Homo sapiens: one gene and its partner. The protein of the gene in region 2 purifies or fractionates together with the protein of the main gene of each other region. This does not show direct contact. Each region holds a gene or a part of one and is shown on either strand. Other genes may lie near its edges.

Region 1 (5,062 bases), on a different chromosome or scaffold from region 2:
CAAACCAAAGGGATGAGGAAATCATCACTCCTAGTTAATTCTCCACTACGTAGACAAACTGCTATTAATATTTACGATGGGAAATTTCATTATTTAAAAATTCTGCCCTAAATTTCCAGCTCACTCCATGAAGAACGCCTGCTGAACAGGTTGCAAATTAAGAACAATTATTTTTCTCTTCTGCATTTGAATACAACTTACAGCTAAAGTCATTTAAAGGGGTTAACATCAACCTTAATTAAATATTAAAGTGTGCCTGTACCTGCTGCTATTGTTGCCCCTTCGAATAAGATATAACCTATTTTTGACAAGTTTTCATCTTTCTCTGTGGAAGACGCTACATGAAACCAAATCAGTGGCAAAGAGGAGAGTAATGAATAATCTATTTCATATTCCAACAGTACCCAGAGCTCGGAGTGGAAAAATATTCAGTCAGATGATGGCAAGAGGCTGCTTGGGGTACCACATGACACAGCTAATGTTTAAATAATAATAATAAAAAAAAGCGATAAACAAATCATTAGCCCTTAACAGTTGTTTAATGCAATTTGTTAATGAACGTAATGGTGGGGACTAATAATGAAAGAAAATAAAAACGTCTAAACAGGCGCCAAGTTGCTGGCAATGCGCAATTATTTCCTTGTCAAGTTTTTATGATTTAATGAGCCCCTCTGGGACTGACGGCTGTCAGTCAGTCGTGACTTTTTGACACCATTACAACTTCAAATACAGCAGCAGGCAGGCTGTTTTCCTCGGATTTGAAATACTGAAATGATCTGACAGTTTTAAAGAAAAGATGTGCAAAAAAAAAGGAGAAAGAGAGGGAGAGAAAGACAGTTGCTTTTCCTTTCTTTCTTTTTTTTCCCCTCCCTTCTTCTATGGGTTGATAATCTCTGGATGCTGTTTGGTAATGAAAACCCAATCACTGAGGTCATTATCTGATGAGGTTTTTGGAACAGGCAGGCTTTTTTCCCCCTCTTTATTTCTTTACTTAATGATAACCCTCAATGGGCTTGCCCCGCATGGGATGGCCAGAGCCGCACAATTTTGTTCACCATTAATTTCAGCCTTTGAAGCTCAGGGCTCAGAAGCAGTAGCAAAGCAAACCCCCCACCAAGCTGGTTCCAAAATAAGACAATCCAGCCTGCCTTAAACAGAATAGCAAATGGCCTCCCAGCCCAGGCCCGGCAGCTGACGTCAGACCCACTGCATTTGCAGGCATTCGCCTTCAACACGGATCATTTAAAACTCTTTACAACTTAAGAGACTTTAATTAAATTGCTTTTGATTCTGGAGTGGGGTAGCATCCACTTTATTTATTCTGTCAGGGAAACTGTTTAGTCTGCATGAATTTTATATGGCAAGGGCTTCCTTCTCTTCTTCCTCCTCCATGCCTTCATCTTCCCCCCAACCACTCCCTTAAACATCATTTTTAACAAGGGCTCCCAACTTGAGAAATATTCGTCAAAGTCTACACACTAAGTACCTAGAACCTCTCACAGATCTACTTCACTATCTGCTTCAAGTCTGTGGACGTTATTCCTTTCCTGGTGGGGCAGGGAAGGAAGGAGAGCAATTGGCCTCTGCTGGGGATCCCCTAAGTCTTTTCTGCAGTGTCCAGGAGGACCAGGAAGGAGTTGAGGGAACCTTCTGACCAGCTTCCTCACAAAGCACTCACTAGCCTGGCCTAGGTAGTTGCTCTCAAGGAGGTTTGATGGAGCTGTTAGGCCAAGGGTTATCTGTTCATATTCTTCCCACTCCCAAGGTTGAATTGGGGTAAAATCACAGGCAAGAGCTGATAAAGACATAGAACTTGAACGAAAAAAGCTATTGAGAGGTGAGCAATGCCCTCCTCCTTTCTCATTTTGTCTGCTTCAACATGAACGCCAGGATTCAGTGAAATATTCAGGAGGCGGCCAGTTTAGATGATCCGATCAACCTTGCTTGCTAGGTGGCCTTGGGAAGAGTCTGCTGCATTGTGGACGGGATGGCCGTGCGAAGTGCAGCTGGTAACTGGTTATACACTTTAGCTAAGATCAACAGTTTTGAAGGAAGCCACCAGAGGGGCTGGTGTAATACTCGATGACTATTCGTGTGTCGGAATGAGAAAAGGGTTGTTTGTTTGTTTCCTTGCTTTTTAATGGTTCTTAGATGTGGTCAGCACGTACAGCATTCCGTTATCAGAATACAAGATTCTTGCTGAGACGGATCCCTTAAGCTGACAGGAAAATTAGCATAGCTTCCTGCTCCTTCTCTGTCCTGCTTCCCTCGGCCAAAATCCCACACCATCCCTCCGAAGTAAAGGCTGCAGCTTTATTTACACAATACTAAATGATTTATCCGAACACATGCAGGCCTTGGCCTGTTTCGATAAGTGCAATTTCTCTGGTGGATTCTGCCATTCTGCATTTCCTCTCTAAACCATAATGGTTTTCTTCTGAGTTGGGAAAAATATCAAGCACTACATCCAGGTGATATTGATCCACGGGCACAGGTGGTTAGCATTTTTGATGAAGAGAACAGGTTTGCTTTTCAAGGATTCAAAGCTTCTAATTATATTCCAAAGATAGTACGGACCAGTAAGTGCCTATGAAGTCTTGAGAAAAACATTCTGCTTTGTGACTGGGGGGAAACGACCTCAGCTTGGGCAACTTTTAAGCCTGATCACAAATGAGCTCATTTTGAACGCAATTCCTGGTTACCTCAGACAGAAAGAAATGAAAGAAAAAAATCACAAAGCATATTAGAAGTTTGAATACATAGTGAATTCAAGAAAGGCTTGCTAACATTTGTTAGTTAAAAACCCAAGCCATTCCTTTTGGAACAATCTGCCATCCTCTATTCTTTTAAAGGAGGTTAGGGAACGTTTTCCGTGAAGTTTATCTCTGGTGGACCCTCCTATAGGACTCTCCCATATTTATAATCACATTTGAAATTTCACACTGATGGAGTCATGTTCTTGCTCTTACTGAAATATTCATGGTCTCTTTACATACTGGAATGTATGTGGAGAGAACCTTGTCAGACCTTTTGCAAGTATGAGGACTGCTTTTGGCAGTGCAGATATTAAAACCGAAAGGATACAGAGATGCTTACACAGGTCAGGGAAGACGAGGTCACAATTAAATCCTGTACCAGGGCTCACTTTGCCAGCAGATTCTGGGGAGTATGGGATTTGGGGAAGGCAAGAAAATATTTCTTGTAGCCAGTAATCAAAGTTGTGAACAGTGAATACTGGGCAGGCTCAGCAAAAAAAATATCTTTGGGTTAAAAAAAAAATTATGCAATAGAAAAACAGGGAAAGTGCTAAGTCAATTTCCTGTACAACCGACATTAAATACCGACCTTTACAATGAAAGCACTCAGGCAGGTTGATGACTATATTCATGAGGCCTGTGTAGGAACAGGGCTGGCTTGCTGGACGGGGTCACTGACTCCATCCCCTGCTTTTTGCTGCATTTTTATCCTCAGACATCACAGAAGAGCTTTTCAGCAACAAGAGGCGGGTGACAAACAGAAGCTCTCGTGACTGACTCATCATGTCCTCTCCCAAACCACGGCCCTTGACACGTCCAGAGGGCTAGGAGTGTCACTGGGGCTATTTTGGCTAGTTGATGACATTAGCAAAAAGGTAAATAAACATTCACCTTCCCCTCTAAAAAACGAATCTGGGTGAAGACAAACCTCGAAAAGGAAACCAACCCACATGCAAACAGGAATAGAAAATATTTTTACACTCTTTGCACTTCAGCCCAACGGCGGTGAGGGAGAGAGAGGGTCACCTGGGGCCTGTCAGCGCAACAGAATGATTCATGTGACCATTTTGTCTTAATTACTCAGAACAAGCTGTTGTTGCTGTTTATCAAGGGAGAGCAGATACATCAGTGTCTTCTGACAGAAAAAGTGATCGCCATCAGGATGGTGATGACCACGATGATCCCTAGGATGACGAGCAGGATGCGGTTCTGGATGATTCTAGGAGACAGCAAAGGAGAAAAAACACACACAGATAAGTGGAAGGCCTTCCCACAAACGCCGTCCGAGGCCAGGTTGGCTAATCAAACGGCAGCTTTGCAGGTGGGGGTGGGGAGCGTGTGTGTGTGTGTGTGTGTGTGTGTGTGTGTGCGCGCGCGAAAGAGACATCACGCAGCTTTCTGGTTCTACAAACGATCCACGAGGAAACGAAAGGCTCCACATGATTGTCACGCTGCCCTCCGAGAAATGCTTACTGCAAAGCTAAGGCGAATCAAATGGCTTTCGAGGCTCAGAAAATCATGTAGCCTCTTTAAGTGATCAAGGGCCCCTTGCGAGCTTCTCTTTCTAATTTAAAAGGCGAGACAAGCCTCATTTTTTGCAGTGTTTCCTGTTAAAGTAAAATACTCCAAGGAAACACATGTCAGCAATGTACTTACCTGCACAAAAATACCTGGGGAAAAGTAAAACAGAGACTAAGGAAGAAAAGGATGGGATTAAGAAACAAGTGTCAAATGTGCAGCTTAGGCTGTGAAACCATCATCTGTCAGTGTGGCTCACGCTCCGTTACGCTAGGAGGAAACGTTACATTTGCTCCATAGCAAAAAAGATGGAAATGAGAAATATACAATGTACTCAAGGTGCCTGTTGTGCGTCTGTTGCTGGGCCTTTACCTCCAGGGATTCTACCTCCCTGGGTTCTGGCTGGGCTGCACGCTGATGGGGAACCAGCAACTTAGAAGGGGGACCAGAGTGGAGACACACGCTCCCAGATGCCTGCAGAGAGCTTCTGATGAGGTTGTTTCATAATTTGTTACCTCATTCGGAGAAAAGAGGTCGAACATCAGAATGCTTTGTTGAGAGTTTCAAAGGGAACCTAGGTCAAACAGCCGTGCCCACGCTCGCTCTCACAGAGCTGCACGGAAATAGAGACATGAGCTGGCTGGCAGTCTAGCCAGCTATCTGTCCAGCTTAAAACCCCACGGCAAACCCCATCCAACCCTCCTCCAAATACCAAGCAGCAAAAGGCCTGCTGCCCTACTCCAGTCACCAAACACTGGACATGGGTCTTCCATGGGGAGGAGCTGGGG
Region 2 (7,032 bases):
TTTCCTTATTTAATTCTTACCTTGGACAAAAGGCATTTAATTTTCTATAGTTGAGACAGTTGCTAAATGTATGACTTATAATTGTCATAGTAGTGATGTATCACTACCATTCAATAATTATTAGATCTAAGGCATTGTACAACAGATGACTCAAGTGAAAGGGGGATAAATATAAGTTCTATCTTTCTTCAGAATATAAAAAGGCTTCTGCAGAACCCCAAAGTGACAGAGTTTGATGCTGCCCGCCTGGTGATGCTTTATGCTTTACATTATGAGCGACACAGCAGCAATAGCCTGCCAGGACTAATGATGGACCTCAGGAATAAAGGTGTTTCTGAGAAGTATCGAAAGGTAACCAGTTTCCATATTAGCCCACCAAACAGGAACCAACTCTGTTATTATATTCTTAGCTCTAACGAATGATAAATCATACTATTTTTATTTACAGAAATGTATAATTCTGTCTTTTCATTTTTGTTTCCTTAATAAAATTATTTTCTTATGAAATGGGCTTCCTGATGCCTAAGCAATCAAAATTTGCTTCTCTTTCTTAATAGCTCGTGTCTGCAGTTGTTGAATATGGTGGTAAACGAGTCAGAGGAAGTGACCTCTTCAGCCCCAAAGATGCTGTGGCTATCACCAAACAATTCCTCAAAGGACTGAAGGTATAGACATCTCCTCTATGCTCTCCTGAGTGAGAACAGTTGAAGTCCTTGAGGCTGAGAGTGAATGAATATGATCTTCAAAGTATCTTGAAGATTGCTGCTAATTTAGTACTGTGTCAGTTAAATGAAATTAAAACTGGCATCCTCTTGAAAGCTTTTTCTTTTAGTGCTTTCTGTCTTAGAGCCGTATCAACATTGGACCAAATAGCTTAGCAGGAAATAACTGGAGGTATTTCCAGGAAATAAGAAGAAAAAGACCAACAGTTCTGTTAGTCACAGATATTTTACACCATTTGTTTATAATTAAAGATTTTTTAGGTAGTTTCTCTTTGAAGGAAATTAAAGATGAAGCAAACTTTTGATCTTTTAAAAATACTAACCTGTTTTCTTAAAATACTCAAAAATTAATTCTAATCTGCTAGCCTTTCTTTTTTTTTTTTTTTTTTTTTTGAGACGGAGTCTCGCTCTGTCTCCCAGGCTGGAGTGCAGTGGCGTGATCTCGGCTCACTGCAAGCTCTGCCTCCCGGGTTTTACGCCATTCTCCTGCCTCAGCCTCTCGAGTAGCTGGGACTACAGGCATACACCACCTACACCCGGCTAATTTTTTTTTGTATTTTTAGTAGAGATGGGGTTTCACCGTGTTAGCCAGGATGGTCTCGAACTCCTGACCTTGTGATCTGCCCGCCTCGGCCTCCCAAAGTGCTGGGATTACAGGCGTGAGCCACCGCGCCCGGCAGCCTTTCTTATGTTTCCTGAAGTTTTTCTATTTTCCTGGGTATTTTCAGTCTTTTTTATACATAATCCTTTCCTTTTATTTGCTCTACCTATCATTTAACATTTCACAAAAGGGTGAGAGACAGTGAAGACATGATTAAGGATTTAAGCAATTCCATTTTTAAAAAATCCTTTACAATAACTAGCCCTAAATTACAGAGTAATTTTTATGAGATTAGAACATTTCTAGCTGATTAAAATAATTTTTAAATTTCCCACAGTTACGTAAATCTATCCCATGAAATCTCTATTGAGTGTATGTCCTTTTCTGATATGAATATTATTAATTCTTGTGTTGCCAATTTCCCAAAAATGACATAAGAACCATTTTCCCCTGTTTTAGGGAGTAGAAAATGTATATACACAGCATCAACCTTTCCTACATGAAACCCTGGATCATCTCATCAAAGGAAGGCTTAAGGAAAACCTATATCCTTATTTAGGCCCCAGCACACTCAGAGACAGGTAAGCTAACAAAGATATTAATAATAAAAGCCAGAAATACTGAACAAACAGAAAATTTAGAGTAATGTTAAGGACTAAAGCTGAGGTTATAGCATTCTGCTGCTCCTTTCTTCTGTTAAGATTCTTTTGGTTTTACATATGTCAGCATTAGATATGAATTCCCCTGCTAAGTCTGAAACATTTATTTCTTTTGTACTAAAGAAACAAGTGTTTTGGAGAGCCTCAAATCCTTCTGTATTTCAGTATCAGACCAGTTTACTTATGCCATTTAAGGTTCTGTTCGATGGCATCTGGCATTTGGTGTTTCAAACATTGAGGCCAAAAATAGGCTTGCTGCTTGATTGCCATCCAGAGCAGGTTGTTACTATTTTTGGTGAGGACTGGACTTTGCCAAATGTTGCCAGCACACAAACTGAGAGACCTAATTAATAAAGGCCATTTGTTACACAGGAGCAAAGGATGGCTTTCTTTTTGAGTATTAACTAAAGGAAGCAATAATTGTCATCTTAATCCAGTGGTTAATTTTTAATAAAAACAAAACTTGTCCAGAACAACTTATTTAGGCCAACCTGAAATTTTAAATACTGTATACATAAATTCTACCTAGTTAAAAATTATATATTTTTTTTGTTGGAACACATGTTATCTAAGGGGCTAACATATATACTTGAATCCTATTGGATAGATTAATGTGAAAATTTTACTGTTGACATAATTCTTCTATTATTTCAGTTAATAAACATCTAAGAGCCTTGGAAGTATAGTGTTTTATAAACATAATGAGATTCTGAATGAGAAAAATGTTTTGAGATACATAGGTGATTCTTTTATGTGATAAAGTGTATTTTTTCACTTTGTCCTTTAAAAAATTTTTTTCTGTAATTTGGTACAGAACAGAAAAAAAAATCATCTTTTAAAAGTCCAAGGTTGAGATGCAGAACATTTGGTGTTAAATTCAGAGAGTACACTCATTCAGATAAAATGTTTAAAGACCTTGGGATCAAGATTCAGAAATGTCAGCTAAGTGGGAAGAATGAACGCCAGCCCAAAGTTATGCACCTATCTGAGAGGCTTTTTAAAAAACAACTATTCTTGAGCTTTTGCATTAATGTGATAAATAAAAACATTTATTTGCTTATGAATTTTTATAAGAATTACTGAACAAGGAATTATTTATTACCAAAGGGAAACCACAGGCCACCGGAAGAATATACTGTATATGATCAGTACACAGCAGGAAACCTTTCTAATTTACATAATTCATTCCCACACAAAGCTCAAAATTATATTCCTTGAACAAAATGCACATTTATCAGTTGTCAACATCTGTTACCATTTGTCACTATAACCTAAGTATGCATATAGTTAATAATTCAGTTGCTTTGTCCTTTTACACAACAGATGTTGATTGAATGCTTTCAGTATGTTAAGAGCTGTTGTAGATGCTGGCGATATAGAAGTGACAGGAAAGACAAGGTACCCGCCCTCAAAGAACTTACATAGAGACAATGAGTAAACAAGTAAACAAATGAAGAATATAATTTTAATAAGTGCTATCCAGGAAATAAATAGGGTGATGAGCTTCAAAGTAATTGTAGGGGTGGGGAGGACTACTTTAGATGGAGAGAGAACCTCTCTGAGAGGTGATATTTAAGATGAGCTTTGAGTCATAAGAAAGAACCAGACCAGACACGGTGGCTCACGCCTGTAATCCCAACACTTTGGGCGGCCAAAGCGGGAGGATCACCTGAGGTCAGTAGTTTGAACCAGGCTGGCCAACATGGCAAAACCCTGTCTCTACTAAAACTACAAAAATTAGCCTGGCGTGGGTAGCAGGCGCCTGTAATCCCAGCTACTCAGGAGGCTGAGGTAGAAGAATCGCTTGAACCTGGGAGGCGGAGGTTGCAGTGAGCTGAAATTTGCACCGTTGCACTCGAGCCTGGGCAACAGAGTGAGACCCCATCTCAAAAAAAAAAAAGCAATCACACTATGATTAGGAGAGAAAGCATCCAAAGCAGAGGGAAACACCAGAGCAAAGGTCTTGAAGAAAGAGAGAATTTGGCAAGTTAATGGAACAGAAGGGAGCCCTGCTTGGCTGGAGCATAGTGAATAAGGAGGAAATAAGAGGTTGAAAGATAGGTAGGGTTGGATCACATCGGTTCTCGAAGACCCTAGTAAAGAGATTTTTTTTTAATGTCATAGGAAGCCATTGAAGAGTTAAGCATATGAGTAACATGAACTTAATTGTGTTTTAAAAGATATTTGTGGTAAGAATGGATTATTGAAGGCAAAAATAGAAGCAGAGAGACTACTGAGGAGATGAATGCAGTAGTCCAGGTGAGAAATGGAAGTGGTTTGGGTAGGAGGCTGAGAGAGAAGCCAGAATCAATAGTCATATTTAATGGCACAGATTTATGGAACAAGGGTAAGAGAGAAGTCAAGAATAACTCTCAGGCTTTGAGGAGAAACAGAGTTTTGTTGTTCAGTTGGAGATGTCTATTAGATAACAAGTAGAAATGTCACATATTGAGAGTTGACAAAAACATTAGTAATATTAAAACCTCTGGAAATGTTGAACTGCTCCAGATTAAACATGGAAAAGGCAACTAGTTGGGGAAATGGAAACAAGAGGAGAGTGTATTGGATCATGACAAAGGTATTGGTGAATGAATTGGAGATTTGATGAGGCCAAAGAATTATTACAGAAGAGTATTAGTACAGGTAAATTGGAAGTTGAGAGGTAGTTATTGGATAAAGATATTTTGAATTCAAGATTTCATAGGGGGTTCAGATACTTGTAACGAAGAAGTTTAGATTGTAAGCATGGATGTGGGTGGTTGTAGTGGGTAAAAGAAAAGATCAGGATTGGTAAGGAGACCAGGATGTTAGATGAGTAATCCACAGTGATGTTAAAGTCACTGACAATCTTGAAAAGAGAAGGAGAAAAAGGAGGACAAATAAGCCAGAGCTAAAGTCTTCATGGAATAAAAGTGACCAGGAAAGGAGGTCAGGAGAAAACGGTGCAGCTACATTATGAGCTTCTAAGATAGTGGAAATTTTGAAGGAAGAAGGCAAAGAAATGGTTACAAAACTACAGTGGGTGTCACAGAACATACCTATACCACCTCCTGGCCATGCCTAACAGAAGGAATACTGCAAAGGACTTGAAAATACTCTTATTTACCAATTCTACTTCTAAAAGCTTACTGTATAGATATTCCTGTGCAAGTACACAAAGATACTTAAGCCAGGATGTTCACTGAAGTAATAGCAAAAAAACTAGGAACAAGCTAAATATCTATTAATAGAGGGCTGGTTACCTAAACTACAGTACAATATTACGTATTCTTTTTTTTTTAAATGACATAACTCCTCACGGGTGATATGCAAAGCTTTTTAAGATATATTAGATAGAAAAGCAGGATGTTGTAACATTTCTTTCTTTTTTTTTTTTTTTGAGACAGAGTCTTGCTCTGTCACCCAGGCTGGAGTGCAGTGGTGCCATCTCGGCTCACTGCAATCCCCGCCTCCTGGGTTCAAGATTCTCCTGCCTCAGCCTCCTGAGTAGCTGGGATTACAGGTGCATGCCACCATGCCTGGCTAATTTTTGTATTTTTAGTAGAGATGGGGTCTCACCATGTTGGTCAGGCTGGTCTCGAACTCCTGACCTCGTGATCCGCCCGCCTCACCTCGTGATCCGCCCGCCTCGGCCTCCCAAAGTGCTGGGATTGCAGGCATGAGCCACTGTGCCCAGCCATAACATTTCTTTCAGGTAAAAAAACTGTATAATCCTGGGTGCAGTGGTTTATGCCTATAATCCCAGCACTTTGGGAGGCCGAGCGGGCAGATTCTTTGAGGTCAGGAGTTTGAGACCAGCCTGGCCAACATGGTGAAACCCTGTCTCTACTAAAAATGCAAAAATTAGCCAGGCGTGGTGGCATGCACCTGTAGTCCCAGCTACTCAGGAGGCTGAGTCAGGAGAATCGCTTGAACCAGGGAGGTGGAGGTTGCAGTGAGCCGAGATTATGCCATTACACACCAGCCTGGGTGATAGAGCAAGGCTCCGTCTCAAAACAAAACAAAACAAAACAAAAAAAGTGTACATGTATATAAATATGTGCTTGACTATACATATGTATGTATATTATATATATAATATATTTTCACAAGCACATATATGTATAAATACAGTAACTCTTTTTGTTTGTTTGTTTGTTTTTTTGAGACAGGGTCTGGCTCTGTAGCCCAGACTGGAGAGTGGTGGCGTGATTTCAGCTCACTGCAGCCTCCACCTTTTGGGCTTAAGCCATCCCACCTCATTCTCCTAAGTAGCTGGGGCTACAGGCACATGCCACAGTACCTAGCTAATTTTTGCATTTTTATAGAGACAAGGTTTTGCTATGTTGCCTAGGCTTGTCTCAAACTCCTGAGCTCAAGCAATCTGCCTGCCTCAGCCTCCCAAAGTGCTTGGATTACTGGCATGAGCCACCATGCCCTGCCTACAGTAATTATTTCTGAAAGAATAATCAAGAAGTTGTTAATAGTCGTTACCTCTGGATATTGAGACAGTAGTTAGTTACATATCTATCCTTCCTATTAGTTATTGTATTAGGTATTGTAATCTTGAAGTAAGTATTATGTTTTGTTAATCTTTGGGGTTTTCACAATGTTTAACACAGTGATTTACAAATAATAGGTGTTCAATAGATGTTTGGTAAATTCTATAGGCATCTCTTCTAGTTGATATGCCAATATTTATAGTTGGAAAATTTAAACCAGAGAATAAACTTAATTGATGCTATACAAAATTTAGATTTTTGAAGTTCATAAACAACCCTTTAAAACATTCTGGCTCTGTATTCACTTGGCCACACTATCAGCTCTAGCCACTTTCTTGGCCCTGTATTATCATATTGAAAAGAGTCCTTGATTATAGTGGTATTTATTATTATTTGTCTCATCATAATAGAAATTCTAGGTTTTATTGTTGCTATAATAATAGAAAATATCAAAGGAAATGTGGCAAGAACACAACTTTGCAAAACCAGAACACTGGTGGAAATTTTTTTAGCCCTTAGCTGTTAAATTAGTGTTTAAGCTGTTTGGCAGTATAGCTATATCCACAAAT

The links. The genes of interacting proteins can lie anywhere in the genome.
Region 1: the proteins of VPS45 (region 2) and VTI1A purify together in Homo sapiens (affinity purification with mass spectrometry; 2 studies listed by BioGRID and IntAct, with this or other methods). This does not show direct contact.

The regions. Positions count from the first base shown.
Region 1 is NC_000010.11:112,814,203-112,819,264, reverse strand, and holds the end of VTI1A (vesicle transport through interaction with t-SNAREs homolog 1A), read right to left. Parts: intron 3,976-5,062; coding exon 3,882-3,975; 3' UTR 521-3,881; downstream 1-520. UniProt on the Homo sapiens protein: V-SNARE that mediates vesicle transport pathways through interactions with t-SNAREs on the target membrane. These interactions are proposed to mediate aspects of the specificity of vesicle trafficking and to promote fusion of the lipid bilayers.
Region 2 is NC_000001.11:150,091,745-150,098,776, forward strand, and holds part of VPS45 (vacuolar protein sorting-associated protein 45), read left to right. Parts: intron 1-192; coding exon 193-351; intron 352-557; coding exon 558-665; intron 666-1,782; coding exon 1,783-1,904; intron 1,905-7,032. UniProt on the Homo sapiens protein: May play a role in vesicle-mediated protein trafficking from the Golgi stack through the trans-Golgi network.